Regions from separate parts of the Homo sapiens genome. Here all the other regions are linked to region 2. Evidence: fine-mapped expression QTL. A gene starts in region 2. Each other region holds a variant in brackets. All regions are shown on one strand. Distances are from middle to middle.

Region 1 (5,759 bases), 58 kb before region 2:
AGAAAAAAAGATAAAAATAATAAAACTAAAATAAAGAAGCACGTGGGAGCCTTTTACTGCATATGGTACATCAAATACCAAAATATACAGTTCAGATTTCCTTTGTAGGCTATGAGGAGTCTTCCTAGTTTATTGAGAAGTGAAGTGACAGATTCCAAACTGTGCTTTAGGAAAACCAACTGGCATCACAGGCTTGATTGGTGGGAGATGGACTGGAGTTTGCCCTTTTGTCTTCATTGATGCCCATTTCTCCTATAATCAGGTTTTCATTGTAACTGGAGTTGGCCGACCACAAGATCTGTAGCAGTGCTGGGCATAGTGGCTCATGACTGTAATCCCAGAATTTTGGATGGCTGAGAAGGGAGGATCACTTGACCTCAGGAGTTTGAAACCAGCCTGGGCAACATAGTGAGATCCCATCTCTATTTAAAAAAAAAATCTGTAGCACTGTCCTTCCGGATACAGGTATATCTAGAGCTTCCCCAAAGGGAGATACCAGACCAGACTGAGTGCAGTGGCTTACACTTCAAATCTCAACACTTTGGCATTTGGCAGCCTGAGGTAGGAGGATTGCTTGAGCCCATGAATTCGAGACCAGGCAGGGCAGCATAGGGACACCAAGTCTCTATAAAAAAAATTTTTTTTTTTTGAGACAGAGTCTTGCTCTGTCGCCCATGCTGGAGTGCAGTGGCACGATCTCGGCTCACTGCAAGCTCCGCCTCCCGGGTTCACACCATTCTCCTGCCTCAGCCTCCCGAGTAGCTGGGACTACAGGCGCCCACCAACAGGCCCGGCTAATTTTTTGTATTTTTAGTAGAGACGGGGTTTCACCGTGTTAGCCAGGATGGTTTCGATCTCCTGACCTCTTGTTCCGCCCGTCTCAGCCTCCCAAAGTGCTGGGATTACAGGCGTGAGCCACTGCGCCTGGCCAAAAAATTTTTTTTGAATTAGCTGGATGTGGTGGCCCATGCCTATAGTCCCAACTACTCAGGAGGCTGAGGCAGGAAGATCACTTTAGTCTAAGAGGCTGCAATGAGCTATGATCACGCCACTGCACTCCAGCCTGGGAAAAAGAACCAGACCCTGTTTCCAAAAAAAAAAGATATCAGACCAGGAAATATTGGGTAGTCTAAAACTGTTTTGTTTTTTTTTTTTTTGGTTTGAGACAGGCTGGAGTGCAGTGGCACAATCAGGGCCCACTGCAGCCTTAACCTCCCTGGGCTCAAGTGATCCTCCCATCTCAGCCTTCCAAGCAGCTGGGACTACAGGTGTGCACCACCACACCCAGATAATTTTTGTATTTCTTGTAGAGACAGGAGTCTCATTATGGTGCCCAGGCTTGCCTTGAACTCCTGGGCTCAAGTGATCCACCTGCCTCAGCCTCCCAAAGTGCTAGTATTACAGGTGTGAGCCACCATGGCCAGCCTTAAAACATTTTTTTGTTAAGGAAGGCATTTACAATGTTTGCTTTCTTAGCATGTATTCATCTGACCTAAGATAAACAGCAGCTGTCATTTATTGATCATTTGCTAAGTGAATTATATGTACTATGTATATATAGCTCACAATCATTTTTACAACCCTGTAAAGTATTGCTTCTGTCCATCTTACAGATGAGTAAGCTGAGGTTCAGAACAATTAAGAAACTTGCTCTTAAGCTTAAGGGGAGTTGAACTTTGCTCCTGACTCCAAAGCTTGTGTGCTCTTAAGAAGAAAATAGAAAAGAAAGTTGGAATTGAGAAGTATGGTGTTTATGCTGCTCTAATCATACCTCTAAGCCATCTGAACTTATCATGGTCTTCTTTGTGATAATCTGAACCTACCTTAAAGTTTAAAAGTAAAACACAGGACACCAAAGATAGGGGTTAAGCAGCTCAGTCACTTCTCACGATTGCCCATATAGACAATCTCCTTCCCTCCTCTTCCTGCTATGGAAGAGCAGGATTTGTATTAATGGAGCCAGGCATTTGGCAGGCTCCATTTAACCTAGAATAATGTTTTTCAAATTGCAAGTCAGACCTATTAGTGGGTCATGAAATCAAGTTAGTGGATGTGAATCAGTACTTATTTTTTGTTTGTTTGTTTTTGAGACAGAGTCTTGCCAGGCTGAATTGTAGTAGCTATTCACAAGTACCATTATAGCTTATCGTACACTGTGGCCTCGAGCTTCTGGCCTCAAGTGATCCTCCCATCTTAGCCTCCCAAGTAGCTCATACTACAAGCACGCATCACTCAGCTAGCACTTGTTTTTAAATCAAATAAAATTGAAAACTATTGCATCCTTGGAAAGTGCAATTGTCGTTTTGTTAGCTTCTGTTTCAGTTTTTAAAAACATAACTCTGTGTGTGTGTGCCTGTGTGCGTGTGTGTGTGTGTGTGTGTGTGTGTGTGT[GTGTT/T]AAGTCACCATGTAAAATGTATTTCTTATTGTGGTTTATGATCAGAGAGGTTTGGAAACCATTGCTACAGGTATATATCGAATGAAATCAATTAGCTAAAGTCACACTTATCAAGGGAAAAAAATTGGGTCCTCATATTTTATTTATTTATTTATTTATTTATTTATTGAGATAGAGTTTTGCTCTTGTTGCCCAGGCTGGAGTGCAATGGTGCTATCTTGGCTCACTGCAACGTCTGCCTCCTGGGTTCAAGCGATTCTCCTGCCTCAGCTTCCCAAGTAGCTGGGACTACAGGTGCATGCCACCACACCCAGCTAATTTTGTATTTTTAGTAGAGACGGGATTTCTCCATGTTGGTCAGGCTGGTCTCAAACTTCTGACCTCAGGTGATCTGCCCACCTCGGCCTCCCAAAGTGTTGAGATTACAGGCATGAGCCACCACGCCTGGCCAGGTCTTTATATTTCATTTTATTTTATTTTTTCAGAGACACAGTCTTGCTCTGTCACCCAGACTAGAATGCAGTGGCGTGACCTTGGCTCACTGCAATCTCCACCTCCCAGGTTCAAGCAATTCTCCTGCCTCAGTCTCCTGAGTAGCTGGGACTATAGGCGTGCGCCACCACACCTGGCTAATTTTTGTATTTTTAGTAGAGACGGGGTTTCACCATGTTAGCCTGGCTGATCTTGAACTCCTGACCTCAGACAATCAGCCTGCCTTGGCCTCCTAAAGGGCTGGGATTACAGGTGCAAGTCACCGTGCCCGGTGGGTCCTTATATTTTATTGTTTCTTTCACTTTAGAATTTGTACTCAGAGTTTGTGAAAAAATAAACTCCCTTACACAATTATTTTTGGTGCTTTCATTCAGGAATTTTGCACCGTTTAATAGTTCATAGCTCTGTCAACACTTTAGCATGGCCTTTGGCTTGGCCTGCCCAAGTAAAGACACAAATCCGCTAGTGAGTTTAGGTGCCTGGAAATAGTGATCTCTTGTGGGACTCAAACGTCTTTAACCTCTTGACTTCCTTCCAGAGTGATAGGTAGGCATGCCAATGGATGTACACTGTGACTTCATCCGAAAGATACCATTTGTAATCTCTCAATGAACGACTACTCATCACCCCTTAATTTCTTGGTTCTGTAGTCTTTTTATTATTATATATACATATTTTTTTTTTGAGATGGAGTCTCACTCTATCGCCCAGGCTGGAGTGCAATGGTGCGATCTTGGCTCACTGCAACATCCGCCTCCCAGGTTCAATAGATTCTCCTGCCTCAGCCTCCCGAGTAGCTGGGATTACAGGCACTTGCCACCACGCCTGGCTAACTTTTGTATTTTTAGTAGAGACAGGGTTTCACCCTGTTGGTAGGCTGGTCTCGAACTCCTGACCTCAGGTGATCTACCCTCCTCAGCCTCCCAAAGTGCTGGGACTATAGGTGTGAGCCACCATGCTGGGCTGGTCCTGTTTGTAGTCTTTATTATAAATTCAAATGTCATAATTTAACTACAACTTTAAAAGATTAACTTTGCAAATTTAACAGTGTAAATTTTTTTTACAAATTTAACTTTGTCACAATGCCCCCTCTGACACCCTCTGCCCCTTGAGTACAAGTAAGTATTTAAATAATTAAATAATTAATTCTGAATCTTAATCATACCAAATTACATGTGACTTTCTTCTGTGTATGCCATAGTTCATGTTCATTCATTTATCTCCCAGATAGTTTTTATCACTTTATAAATTTGGTTTACAAGCCAAGGACTCAGAAATCCATTTCCTTCTAGGTTATAGACAGTAGCATCTTAGGACTTCAGAGCTTGGAGAGGAAAAAAATAGAGTTAGAGACAGGTCTCACTCTGTTGCCCAGACTGGAGTGCAGTGGAGGGAACACATCTCACTGCAACCTTGACTTCTTGGGCTCAAGTGATTCCTCCTACCTCAGCCTCCTGAGCAGCTTGGACTACATGCCACCATGCTCAGCTAATTTTATTTTTCTTTTTTTGGTAGAGGAGGAGTCTCATCATGTTGCCTAGGCCGGTCTCAAACTCCTGGGCTCACTTGATCCTTCCGCTTTGGCCTCCCAAAGTGTGGGATTGTAGGCGTGAGCCACCATGCCTGGCCAAGAGTAGAGTTCTTTACCAAGACAGATGAGCAAAGAATATTAACTGACATCTCTAGTAATATCAGTCAGTAATTAATAAGTTACAGACAATTTAAGGGAAATTTAAGGAAACCCCAACAGAAGTAAAATTCAATTTTTTTTTTTTTTTTTGAGATGGAGTCTTGCTTTGTCACCCAGGTTGGAGTGCAGTGGCGTGATCTTGGCTCACTGCAACCTCCATCTCCTGGGTTCATGCAGTTCTCCTGCCTCAGCCTCCCGAGTAGCTGGGATTACAGGCATGTGCCACCATGCCTGGCTAATTTTTGTATTTTTAGTAGAGACAGGGTTTCACCATATTGGTCAGTATGGTCTGAACTCCTGACCTCAAGTGATGCACCCACCTCAGCCTCCCAAAGTGCTGGGATTACAGGCATGAGCCATCACACCTGGCCGATTTTATTGAGTATAAGTAGTTGACTCCCTGTCATTTATTCCACCTCAGATAACTAGTCTAATCCAATTCTGGTTATTCTACCATCTCCTTGGCAGTAATTCGTTTTAGAGTAGGAGTGTGGCCAACTGTGCAGGGTTCTTAGAAATACTTTCTTGTGGTCGGGTGCAGTGGCTCACACCTGTAATCCCAGCACTATAGGAAGCCGAGGTGGGTGGATCACTTGAGGTCAGGAGTTTGAGACCAGCCTGACCAACATGGAGAAACCCCGTCTCTACTAAAAATACAAAATTAGCCGGGCATGGTGGCACATGCCTGTAATTCCAGCTACTTGGGAGGCTGAGGCAGGAGAATTGCTTGAACCCAGGAGATGGAGGTTACGGTGAGCCAAGATTGTGCCATTGCACTCCAGCCTGGGCAACAAGAAGAAAACTCTGTCTCAAAAAAAAAAAAAAAAAGAAAAAAGAAGAAATTCTTTCTCACTCCTAAGAGTGCTCTTCTTCCTCTGCATATTGGCATGGCTGAGTTAAAAGAATTTCTGCAGTTATCTTGCTACTGCCTGAGGATAAAGCTGTTACCAAGAATGGGATAGGGTAAAGGGATGGATGAACCCTGGATCCTTCATGACATTGTAATACAACTGCATCAATCAACCCTGTCCTATCTCTGAGCTTCCTTGTTGTATGACATAGTAAATTTCCTCATTTGATTATTATTCATAGTGTGAGTGGGTTTTATTATTTACAACCAAACCATTCGAACTGATCTGCTGAACGTTAGTACCACTTGGTAACACTGATTTTCCCTAGATT
Region 2 (5,759 bases):
TTAACAGTGAGCTTGCAAATTTATGAGCTACAAACCTTAGCCCTAGATCATTTAGACTGTGATCACTCTGTGTTGGGGGCATTTTCATTATTATCATCTGCTTCTTAATGGAAGACATTTATTCATTTAACAAATACTTAATTAGCACTTATATGACAGATATATTAACACACCATTTGCCCCATCTGAGGAGACAAACTCCGATGAGAGGCCTTTTAGGATTAATGCCTCACTTTAGAAATACGGATGTGTGAAAGGTCAAGTGAAAGTTGTGTCTCTTCTGCAGGCACACCCTACTCCCCCTTATTCCAGAGTTATTCATTAATGATGTGAAACAAACTTGAGGTGTTTAGTTTTTCAGAGATTTCAGAAATGGGAAGCCACTGATGTCGCCTTTTACTTTGGAAATGTGTTGGCAATTCGGATCATCAGAAAGATGTCTGCTTCATCTCTGGAATATCTAAGTCTACTTACAGAAAACAAATCTTTAACAAACATTTGCAACCACATGAGATTTGGTGCAGTTGAATTCATTTTAGTATTTTTAAAACGTGTAACACTTTTCTAAAGAAAATATCCCCTTGCTTGTTCTTCTGCTTCTTTTTTAAAAAAATAGAGACCTTGGTCGGGTACGGTGGCTCACACCTGTAATCTCAGCACTTCGGGAGGCTGAGACGGGCAGATCACCTAAGGTCAGGAGTTTGAGACCAGCCTGGCCAACATGGTGAAACCCCACCTCTACCAAAAATACAAAAATTAGGCGGGCTTGTAATAAAAATAAAAAAAATTAGCGCATGCCTGTAATCCCAGCTACTTGGGAGGCTGAGGCAGGAGAATCGCTGGAGCCCGGGAGGCAGAGGTTAAGGTGAGCCGAGATTGCGCCATTGCACTCCAGCCTGGGCAACAAGAGCGAAACTCCGTTTAAAAAAAAAAAAAAAAAAAGAGCACGGGTCTTGCTGTTGCCTAGGCTAGTCTCAAGTGATCCTCCTGCACTAGCCTCCTAAAGTGTTGGGATGACAGGTGTGAGCTACTACACCCAGCCCTCCCTTGCTTTTTGCGTCTGTTACCTTTTTCTTCCCAAATTTCCATGTGAGAGTTAAAATTGTCTTTTTTTTTTTTTTTTTTTGAGACAGAATCTCGCTCTTCCTCTGTCACCCAGGCTGGAGTGCAGTGGCAATTCTCCTGCCTCAGCCTCCCGAGTAGCTGGGATTACAGGCGCCTACCACCATGCCTGGCTAATTTTTGTATTTTTAGTAGAGACGGGGGTTTCACCATATTGGTCAGGCTGGTCTTGAACTCCTGACCTCAGGCAATCCATCTGCTTGGGCCTCCCAAAGTGCTGGGATTACAGGCGTGAGCCACCGCGCCCGGCTTCTGTCCACTTCTCAAGGCCATCTCAAATAACTTTTTCTTCAGGAAACTATTTCTCAAACCACTATAATTTTTTCCTAAGTTCTCTAGAATTCTTCCTTTGTTTAATCCCACTTTTTGCTTCACTTTCATTTTAGGAGCTAGGCGTATTTTTAAAAAGGCCCTTTGACCTCAAAGGATACACGTGGGTGAAAAACCACCTTCCTCTAAATTTATTTTTCACTCACTAGGAAGAATGGTTTACTGTTAATAGCGGGTGGAAAGAAGGGACACTGAGTATGAGGACCTATCTGTACTACCTAATATAATTTATCTTTTGATCTACTCTGAGAATGACGCGAGCCTAATCTTCACATTGGAAAATCACGAGAGGAAAAAACCCTTCGGAGGTCTACAGGCACAAGGAACCCTGTCTCCACGCTGTTTATAGCAGCTGTCTCAGGAATCCTCTGCCTAGAATGAATGTGGGAGAGGTTTCGTGGCGCGGCAGCTGCAAAGCAAGGAATCTTTCCCATTCCTCGTCGACTCGGTCCCCTCCCCTCCCCTCCCGAATGGCGGCAGCTGCCGAGGTATCCCAGTGGAAATCTCCAAGTCTCCGCCGAGAGCGGCGGGCGGGCAACAGCTGAAAGCAGCCAGGGGTGGGGACTCCTCGCTCCCATTGGGCAGGGACAGCAGCCTCACTGGCTCCAGCGCCGTCACCTCTCTGGCTCGTAGAGGTGCCTCAGGTGTTCTTCTCCAAGTCCAATGAGACACCTAGGCAACGCAGCGCGTGTTCCCTCCGCGCCAAGAGACCCTACGGTAACTTAACAACAGCAGGAGCGCCAAAATCCCCGCCTCAGGACTTGGCAGAAGCACCTCCCGAGGTCCGAGAGTGGGAGAGGGGAAAGTGTAGGCCCTCGGACGGAAGGGTCTCTCCTCGCCGGGCCGGGTACACACCTGGTGCTACCAGAGCAGCGCGCCTAGTGCAGCCGGAAGCCCCAGCCCAGCACTCCGGCTGGCTCGGGGCCCCCTTGGCTGTCCGCGCGTCGTCACCGCGCCCCCGCCGCGCGGCTGCCTCCGCCTTCGCGCCCTCCCGCCCCGCGCACTCGCGCTCGCGCACGCGCACGCCGCGCCCGGCAGCACTCGGCGCTGTCATGGCGGCCGGGAGCAGCTTCAGTGGGCACACGACAGCCGCGCGACCCGTGGCGGGGCGAGCTGTGGCAGTAGCATCCTCACCACTCGCAGCAGCCTCAGCCGCGGCGCCCGTAGCGCCAGCAGCGGCTGCTTTTGCAAAGGCTGAGCGCAGGGGCGGGGCGGGCCAGGAAGCCATGGAGTTCTGTGCAGCCGCGGACTCCCGGGGAGCGGACTAGGGAAACTTGGAGGCTGCGACCAGGTGCACTGACCTCTCTGTCCTCCCTTCTCTCCCTGCGGTGGCCGCTGGGTTTCTCTGGCCGCTCCCCTCCCTTCCTGCCACCACACACACCTCCCCACCCCTTCCCGTCGAATCTCAGGTGCCTGAGAGAGGTGCTTCACTCCTCCCACTGGGCCGAGCATTTAGAATAATCACCGCCCCCTTCCCCCGCCTTTTCCTGCCCTGGATCTCCGCCGCCACCTCGGTCTCGCTGCTCCTGGGCGGGGGGTGAGGACGAGTCCGGAGTATCTGGGTGAGGAAGAACTTTCTACCTCTGTGATAGCTTGTGGGCCCCCCTTCTTTCCTCCGATCCCTCCTTTCCCCGCGACAGTTTCTCTTTCTAGTGCACCTGTGAGGAGAGGTTACCCTGCGCCTAGAACCTGCACGAGAGTGGGGGAGGAGTGAGCCTGTTCGGGGGCCTCTTGGACCTGCCTTCACCCAGAACCCAGCTTTTTGAGCCCGGGAGAAGCGGGTGGCTAGTAGTGGGGTGCCTTTAGTAACTTACTTGACCGACAATAACTATTTCCCTCTTGTCCCCTCAAAACCCTAAAACAAAACCTAGCCTATTTAACATATATTTAATCTTCCAATAGGGTTTGGCGTTGTTGTCAGCCTCGGGGAGAGAGATTGGACAAATATTCTCCAAGAGGAGGAGGGCGACGCCAAGGACTTTCCACATCAACTGCTTTGGGGTATCTCCACAAGTTGGAAGAGGGACCCTTTCGTTTTGCATTGCGTGTGTTGTGCTCATTACCAGTGCAGCGACTGCCGTCCCAGGGTGACTCTGAGTTGTCCTTTATCGTGAGCTAGCAATGGCTAGCGAAGACAATCGTGTCCCTTCCCCGCCACCAACAGGTGATGACGGGGGAGGTGGAGGGAGAGAAGAAACCCCTACTGAAGGGGGTGCATTGTCTCTGAAACCAGGGCTCCCCATCAGGGGCATCAGAATGAAATTTGCCGTGTTGACCGGTTTGGTTGAAGTTGGAGAAGTATCCAATAGGGATATTGTAGAAACTGTCTTTAACCTGGTAAGTCCATGAATATTTTATAAGCATATACTCTTTTCAGTGGGTTGGGGAACAAGATCTTAAAGCTGGAGCCATGTGGTTTACTCACACTGATGGTGACTTTTTTCGTGTATAGGGACACAAAATTCTACTCACCTAAATGAAACAATTTCATCTGTTTTTTAGATTGAAGGGAATTGTGCAAACTTAGATGATCCAGGTTTTGTGAAAGTGAACACATCACTTTTGTGCTAAGGAAATAATTGTTGCTATGGAAGTATTGGGGGGAGGTTCTAGCGGAGGAGTTATCTCTAATTTTTTTTTTCTTGGCTTGTATGCCTAAGTCTGCGTTTCCCTTTACCACTTTAAATAATTTCTTGTGACCTTTTTTTGGACTTGAGAATTAATGTCTTTGATTCTGTCGAAGTTATGTTTTGCTACAATAAGTTTAAAAATTTGTTTGTAGTGCTGATGCAAGATTAATTTGCTGCAAAGTTAGTATTTTTAATTTTGACTAGTTTTATTTTTAGACATAACTAACAAAAGTTAAATTGGTGATGAATTTAGGATTGCATTTAAAGTAATCTTGTGAAAATTGAATGGCAATATGAAAAAAGGAATTGAAGCAGATACAGTATAATTTTTATGTGTTTTATAAATTCATGTCTAGCAGGAAAGCATAGTTAGTCATTGGAAGTTGCTGATTATACTAAGATGAGCTATGAATGCTTTTTTTCGGGTGGGGGTGGGAGGGGGATGAGGCCTCTCTATGTTGCCCAGGCTGTTCTCAAACTCCTAAGTTCAAGCTATCCTCCTGCTTCAGTCTTATGAGTAGTTGTGGCTATAGGCATGCATCACTGTATAGGGCTTAAATTGTTTTTAAATTGAGGTATAATTCATATATTATACAATTCTACCTTTAATTAATTCATTAACTTATTTATTTAGAGATGAGGTCTCACTCTGTTGCCTAGGCTAGTTTTGAATTCCTGGGTTCAGGCGATTCTCCCCTCTTGTCTCCTAAGTAGCTGGAACTACTGGCATGCGCCATTGTGCCTGGCTTGGTTATCATTTATAATGGAGACTTTTTAGATTTCTTTATTCCAGCCTCTCTTGCCCATCAACTTAAAGAATCAAAAGGAAATCTGGCCCTAAAATACTTCCCCCTTTTCTACCTACCCACCTGTGTTAGAGGATAACAGGACCAAATATAAACATGCAGTTAATTGTAATAACTGTTTAGCACCTTTCCCTTTGCCTCTTTTCAAGGTTAGGCTTGTTTTATTCTGGGGCAGTTAATTATTTCTTTCACTAGACCTTCTCTAATGGTCTGGTCACCTGCAGTACAACTTCTAGAATAAGAAAGTAGCTAGATGGAATTCTGGCCGGGCGTGGTGACTCACGCCTGTAATCCCAGCACCTCAGGAAGCCGAGGCGGGCACATCACTTGAGGTTAGGAGTTTGAGACTGGCCTAGTCAACATGGTGAAACCCCATCTCTACTAAAAATACAAAAAAATTAGCTGGATGCGCTTGCTTGTACCCAGGAGGTGGAGGTTGCTGTGAGCCGAGATCGTGCCAATGCACTCCAGCCTGGGTGGCAGAGTGAGAGACTGTTTCAAAAAAAAAAAAAAAAAAAAGAAATTCACTTACTTTTGAAGAATGAAAGCTTTGAACAATTGGATATTTCTATGTCAGTTTATTGGGAGTTTATGTATAAACACCTATAGACACACACATGCATATTTTAAAAAACTGCATATTATGGAAATGTTCAAATATATGCAAAAATAGAATAGTATAATGAACTCTGGTATCCGTTGTGCAGCTTCAACAGTTGTCAACATTTTGGGGATCTTGTGTGTGCGCATGTGTGTGGGGCTTTCATATGTAAGTCTGAGGAAGATAAATGGTAAATTGATTGCTTTACCTCAAAATAGACTTGAAACATTTCCTTTCTGATTTTTTGTTCTTTTTTAAAATGTCATATGC
Region 3 (5,759 bases), 750 kb after region 2:
ATTTTTTTTTTTTTTTTGAGATGGAGTCTCACTCTATCACCCAGGCTGGAGTGCAATGGTGCAATCTCAGCTCACTGCAACCTCTGCTTCCCAGGTTCAAGTGATTCTCCTGCCTCAGCCTTCCAAGTAGCTGGGATTACAGGTGCCCACTACCACGCCCAGTTAATTTTTGTATTTTTAGTAGAGACGAGGTTTCCCCGGGTTGGCCAGGCTGGTCTCGAACTCCTGACCCCAGGTGATCCACCCACCTTGGCCTCCCAAAGTGCTGGGATTACAGGCATGATCCACCATGCCCAGCCAAGTCATCTTAGTCTAGCTAGAGGTTTGTCAATTTTGTTATTTTTTCAAAGAACCAATTTTTGGGTTTTTTCCTATCAATCATTTTACTATTTTCTGCTTTATTTCTCTCTACTCTGTTCTTTATTATTTTCTTCCTTCTGCCTAGCCTGGGGTTTTGTCTGTTTTCTAGTTCCTTAAGAGGTAAAGTTAGGTTATTGATTTGAGATATTTTTAAATCTATGTGTTTACAGCTAAAAATTTCCATTTTAGCATTGCTTTTGCTGCATTTCATAAGTTTTGGCTTGTTGTATTTCCTTTTCATTTGTCTCAGTATTTTCTGATGTCTCTTATGTTGTTGTTTGTTTTTTTTGACTCATCATTTATTTACTTTCCACATATTTGTGAATTTTCTAGTTTACCTTCAGTTATTGGTACCTAGTTTCATTCTATTATGATCAGAAAAGCTACTTTGTGATTTTAATCTTTACTAAGTCATTAACACTTGTGGCCTAACATATGGTTTATCTTGGAGACTATTCCATGCGCACTGCAAAAAAATGTATATTCTATTGTTGTTGGGAAGGTGTTCTATATACGTGTGTCAGGTCCAGTTGGCTTATCGTATTGTTCAAGTGTCCTGTTTCCTTATCTTCCACCTGGTTGTTCCACCCATTATTGAAAGTGGGGTATTGACGTCTAAAACTATTACTGTAGAACCATTTCTCCCTTCAATTCTGTTAATATTTGCTCTTTGTATCTTGGGGGTCTGATGATAAATGCATATATAATTGTTATATTTCTGTGAATTTACCCTTTTCTCAGTGTAGTGTCCTTTGTCTCTTGTAACAGTTTTTGACTGAAAGACTATTTTGTCTGATATTAGTGTAAGCCACCTCAGCTCTCTTTGCTAGTACTTACACGGAATATCTTTTCCATCCTTTCACTTTCAAGATGTTTGTCTTTAGATCTCAAGTGGGTCTCCTGTAGACAGCATATAGTTGGATCATGTTTTTTATCCATTCTGCCAATCTCTTCCTTTTGGCTGGAGAATTTAATCTCTTTAATGACTGATAAGGAAAGACTGACTTTTGCCACTTTTCTATTTAATTTTCTCTCTGCCTTAGAGTTTTGTCTCTCATTTCCTCCTTACTGTCTTCCTTTGTTTTTAGTTGATTTTTTTTGTAGTGACACATTTTAGTTCCTAATTAATTTTGATACGAGGTACTAGGAAGGATACTGAATATGGCTTCTAAGGGCTGGTCCTAACCAAACTACACAGAGAAAAATCTGGCTATGCTCAGTTTAGGTTCACCTATGTTCTCCATCTCTTTCCCTGCACCACCTCTTTGGGGACAGGAGACCAAGAAGCTTGCAGAAGTTCTTATCTTCAGTGATTTCGGTGAGTTACTGTGTTACGAGGACTAGGTCCTCACCCAGAGCATGATGGACATAGACTACTTCTCCACAGAGGGGAGACCAGCTTAAATTATGGTCAACAACACTCTTCTTTTTCACTCTTCATTGATTCTGTACCTGTCAGAGGTGGTGTCTCTTGTCACTTGAGTGTGTGCTGCTTCTTTCCACCAGCAGTTACTTTGAGATTGTGGTTCCTTCTTTTGAGTCTGTTGCTTATATAATGGATGGGTCTTGCCAGCCCAGTCCCCCTTTAGAAATTACCAAATCTGTTCAGATTTTAGTTACAAATCTGTTCAGATTTTAGTTACTCATCCTGCACATACCAGCTGTCCGTACCCTTTCAATGAAAAAGCAAGCTGTGGCTTGGATCCTTGTGGAGTGTCAGAGGCAGTACTCTGAGCTTACTCAGGGATACATTTTAGTCATGAAATACATACCTTAGTTCCCACAAATTGGAGCCTTCACTGCCAGCTTCTATATTTACCTTGTGGATTTGGGGAGAGCAGTTTTTAGTAACATCTCTAGGACACACAGGTTTGTAAAAGTCCTTCTCTCTGTGCTTCTCCTAGGTGCATCATTTCTGGCATGGCTTCAGGAAGCATTGTGCTATTTTACAACGACTTTAACCGGTGGCATCATGAATACCAAACCCGCTACTGATGGTGACAGCTGTACATCAACTCTGCCCCTAGGATGAGCAGAAGTACCTGGAGCATCATTCTCTTCTACCACATCTGAATGTAACTTAAATTTGCTCAAAGAAGCAAAATATTTTTTAAAGTTATTAATAATTGCTATTTTTGTAGTCTTTGCTTGACTTTTTTGGGGGGGATTAGCAAAGCAGAAAACTGGCTGCTGGGTTCTGTAGTTTTAAAAAATCTATATTTTTAGTCATAATGAGAAGTCTATTTTCACCAATTATGGAAACATACAGTGGAGCAAGTAAACCACTTATTCCAGCTATAATATTATGAAGAACATTTCCCATGCATCTACAAGCTTGAGAAATAGGATTTTCACAGTGGGGAAGTGGGTTACAATATTGGAATAGGAAAATTTGATGCTGTAATTTGGGTCCTGTATTTTTCCAAACAACTGTGCTTCTTCAGCACTAATATTTCTGGGATTTAAATAGTAATGTTTAAATTATGGTAAATGTAATTTAAAACATCTCAATTAAGTCTGTCTATCAATATTGTTCTTCAAGCATGTTTTAGACCTAGAAAAGTATGGTTTGGGGGAGGCTATTTTATTGTGTGGTTAGCACAAGGAATCTAATTTATAGCAAGTGTGAAATAGTTACCATTTTTTCCTGATCTGTCATCTTCATAGCACAACAAAACGAAATGATGGAAATGCTCTTGAGCTCACAACATTTGTTTTTCTTTTAAAGTAAATGCAAGTACCAAAGCTCACTACTGCGGTTTGCCTGTGCCTGGACAATGAGGCGGAGCCACTGTTG[TTTTGTTGG/G]GGCACCCCCTTCCCTCCCCGGGTTTGCAAATAGAGGCTACCGGGTGCTGTATTCAGCAACACCTGTTTTACTATTTGTTATTAAACTATCATCTCCACCTTCCTTTTGATTAGCAATTTGTACTAAGAAACGAAACAATGTTATTTGGTGGTGTATAATTCTACTTTTCTAGTAGATTACTGTGTGGAATTCTGTGAAAAATATTTGAGAAAAGGCCTGTATTGCATAAATAAATTCTTTGTATGTTGTGAACTTTGATCTCTATTTCTCTTGCAACAGACTTCAAGTGGTCCCTCTTTTTTTCCTACACACTCAGCTCTTCTCTAAAAGCAAGGATTTGGAATGAACAATTCAGTTTGACAGAAAAAGCTGAATAAAATGGCATCTGTAATTGAATTGTTGGAAATGCCTTTTTTGCTCCTAAATTTTAAACATCATTAATAAAATAATGATTCACAAAGAAAGAAAATGTCAAACTCTGATTCAGTCCTAGTTTTTGATCAATAACCAATGTGAGAGATCCTCCTGACTGAAAACAGGAAAATGAGCTTTCTTTGGCCAGATCTCTCCTCTTTCTTACTGAGACTCACACAAATGACCTAGACCTGAATCTTACAAATGCCTAGCAAGGAACTTTATGTACCACTTCATCTGAGATCCATCATTAAGAAAATAAATAGACGACGGTGAAATGTGGGGGAGGGAAAGTACATTTTAGAATCAAAGAAATACCCAAGTTGCTGATAAATTAATTAACTGATGAACATCTTCACTGTTTGTTTGTTAATGTCCTCATTAACTTGTGAATATTACTCTTTGAAAACTTCTTAAGTGAACAATGGTAAAAGAAAATACCAATACCTAAGTCGTGCCACACAAATGATACTTCAACCACCCTATGCTTAACAAGCCTAAAGCAAAGCTCCTCTTGAAACCTAAAAGGAAAAAAAAATCAGTATCTCCACTACCTTTATTGTTTTAAAAACTTACGACTAACGAAAATTAATTGAAACATAAGTTGGCCGGGTGCATTGGCTCACGCCTGTAATCCCAGCACTTTAGGAGGCCGAGGCAGGCGGATCACTTGAGGTCAGGAGTTCGAGACAAGCCTGGCTAACATGGGGAAACCCTGTCCCTACTAAAAATACAAAAAGTAGCCAGGCTTGGTGGTAGGCGCCTGTTAATCCCAGCTACTCAGGAGGCAGAGGCAGGAGAATTGCTTGAGCCTGGGAGGCGGAGGTTGCAGTGAACTCAGATTGTGCCACTGCACTCCAGCCTAGGCGACAGAGTGAGACTGCATCTCAAAAAATAATAATAATAATAATTAAAATTTAAAAAATAAATATTAAAAGAAACAATACTTCATGAAACAAATAAGGCTGGCATCAACACATGGGCTTCTTAATGACAGAATCTGTTCAGTAATAACATTTACAGTTTATTCAATATTTACTTATTCAATTTTAACTAACTCCTTAAAAAGGCTATTACTTTACATAAATGTAAGCCAGCTAAGAAAAAGCCAGCTAAGTGAAAGTAGAGGTGTTTTGGGGCTGGAAATAAGGGAACCACAACAGAGGGAGCAGTGCGTCTGCACAGTGAGTAGATGCGGCTGGATGGGCTGTGCTTGGTCCATGTACAGTAACTGAGGGCTGGTTTAAGATGCATTGCCTCCAGAAATTAAGATTTTCCTCCCTGACATACTGTTTCTTACTGAAATATAACCAATCAAGTCCCTGAGATGCTGTCATTTAAGAAATACCATTAGATCTGTGGGAGAAAGCAGGAGAGCTAAGAGACAACATGAACATCCGAAAAACATCGATAGAAACGTGTAGACAACACACTCTCAGATGACAGTGTCTTACTCCCAAAGTACACCAAAAATCAGTGTTTTCATAAATTACTTCAATAAAAGAGCTATTTTATCCATTGAGAAACATCACACCTCACTTCTGCTTAGCATACACAACAGGAAGATTCCAAGTGTCTTGCACAGGAATTACGAGTAGCCGTGAGCAGGGCATGAGGTCAGGAACTGACAACCCGGGGTCGCCCTTTCCACTCGCTCTAAGAGCAGCCGAGCCAGAGGGTCAGGGGCCAACCACACACTTGGTGTCACATGTCCTCCTACACCTGTCAGAGGGACAGTGAGATGGCAGTGGTTGTGTGAGTCAAGCTTGCAGGAGATGGTCAGGGAACCTGGGATGTAGCCACTGCACCTACTTTGTACCCTTCTTAGCAAATACAACAGCTTGCAGCAGCTTAGATTCACCATGAAAGGTGGTTGAGGTAGAGATTTTCAGTAGGTTTCTTTGGTATCTTGTTACTGGCTGTGATCTCAAGAGCTTCCAGCCATGCAAATAAAAGGCCTGGTTTAGTCCTTTCTAATGTGACAGTCCTGCCCCATTCTCCATCCCTGCTAAAAAAGGCAGCTGACCCATGATATAAACAGATTCCTCCTGGATCCAGATGCAGAAGTGTCTTTCATTTAAAAGCTGGAATAAGCCACCACTGAGCTAGGTGGAGAAACTTCACCAGTTCCTGGTGTGTGTTCACTATGGATTAGCCCCATAGCCCCACATGAAATCAC

Direction of the effects. Alleles are on the strand shown, and positions count from the first base shown. SD is a standard deviation of normalised expression in the study named. Not every link is listed here.
For the expression in Th1 cells of the gene that starts at base 2,932 in region 2, allele GTGTT in region 1 goes with a higher level than allele T (large effect, 1.0 SD a copy in Schmiedel 2018).

Evidence for each region.
Region 1: its variant is fine-mapped to the expression of LRBA in Th1 cells (Schmiedel 2018, PIP 0.95).
Region 3: its variant is fine-mapped to the expression of LRBA in whole blood (TOPMed, PIP above 0.99).

Annotation. Positions count from the first base shown.
Region 1 is chr4:151,070,492-151,076,250 of GRCh38, reverse strand. No RefSeq gene overlaps it. Among named protein-coding and RNA genes, the nearest start is that of RPS3A, 26 kb to the left of the region's middle. The variant GTGTT/T (reference allele first, on the strand shown) is at 2,392.
Region 2 is chr4:151,012,457-151,018,215 of GRCh38, reverse strand. It overlaps LRBA (LPS responsive beige-like anchor protein), which reads left to right and starts at 2,932. Exons shown (of 57, transcript NM_001364905.1): 1 at 2,932-3,014; 2 at 3,355-3,789. The coding sequence starts at 3,574. RefSeq lists a silencer at 2,363-2,512 and enhancers at 2,064-2,661, 3,013-3,142, 3,323-3,502.
Region 3 is chr4:150,262,318-150,268,076 of GRCh38, reverse strand. LRBA (LPS responsive beige-like anchor protein) reads left to right here. Exons shown (of 57, transcript NM_001364905.1): 57 at 2,265-3,642. The coding sequence ends at 2,355. Among named protein-coding and RNA genes, the nearest start is that of DCLK2, 190 kb to the right of the region's middle. The variant TTTTGTTGG/G (reference allele first, on the strand shown) is at 3,158.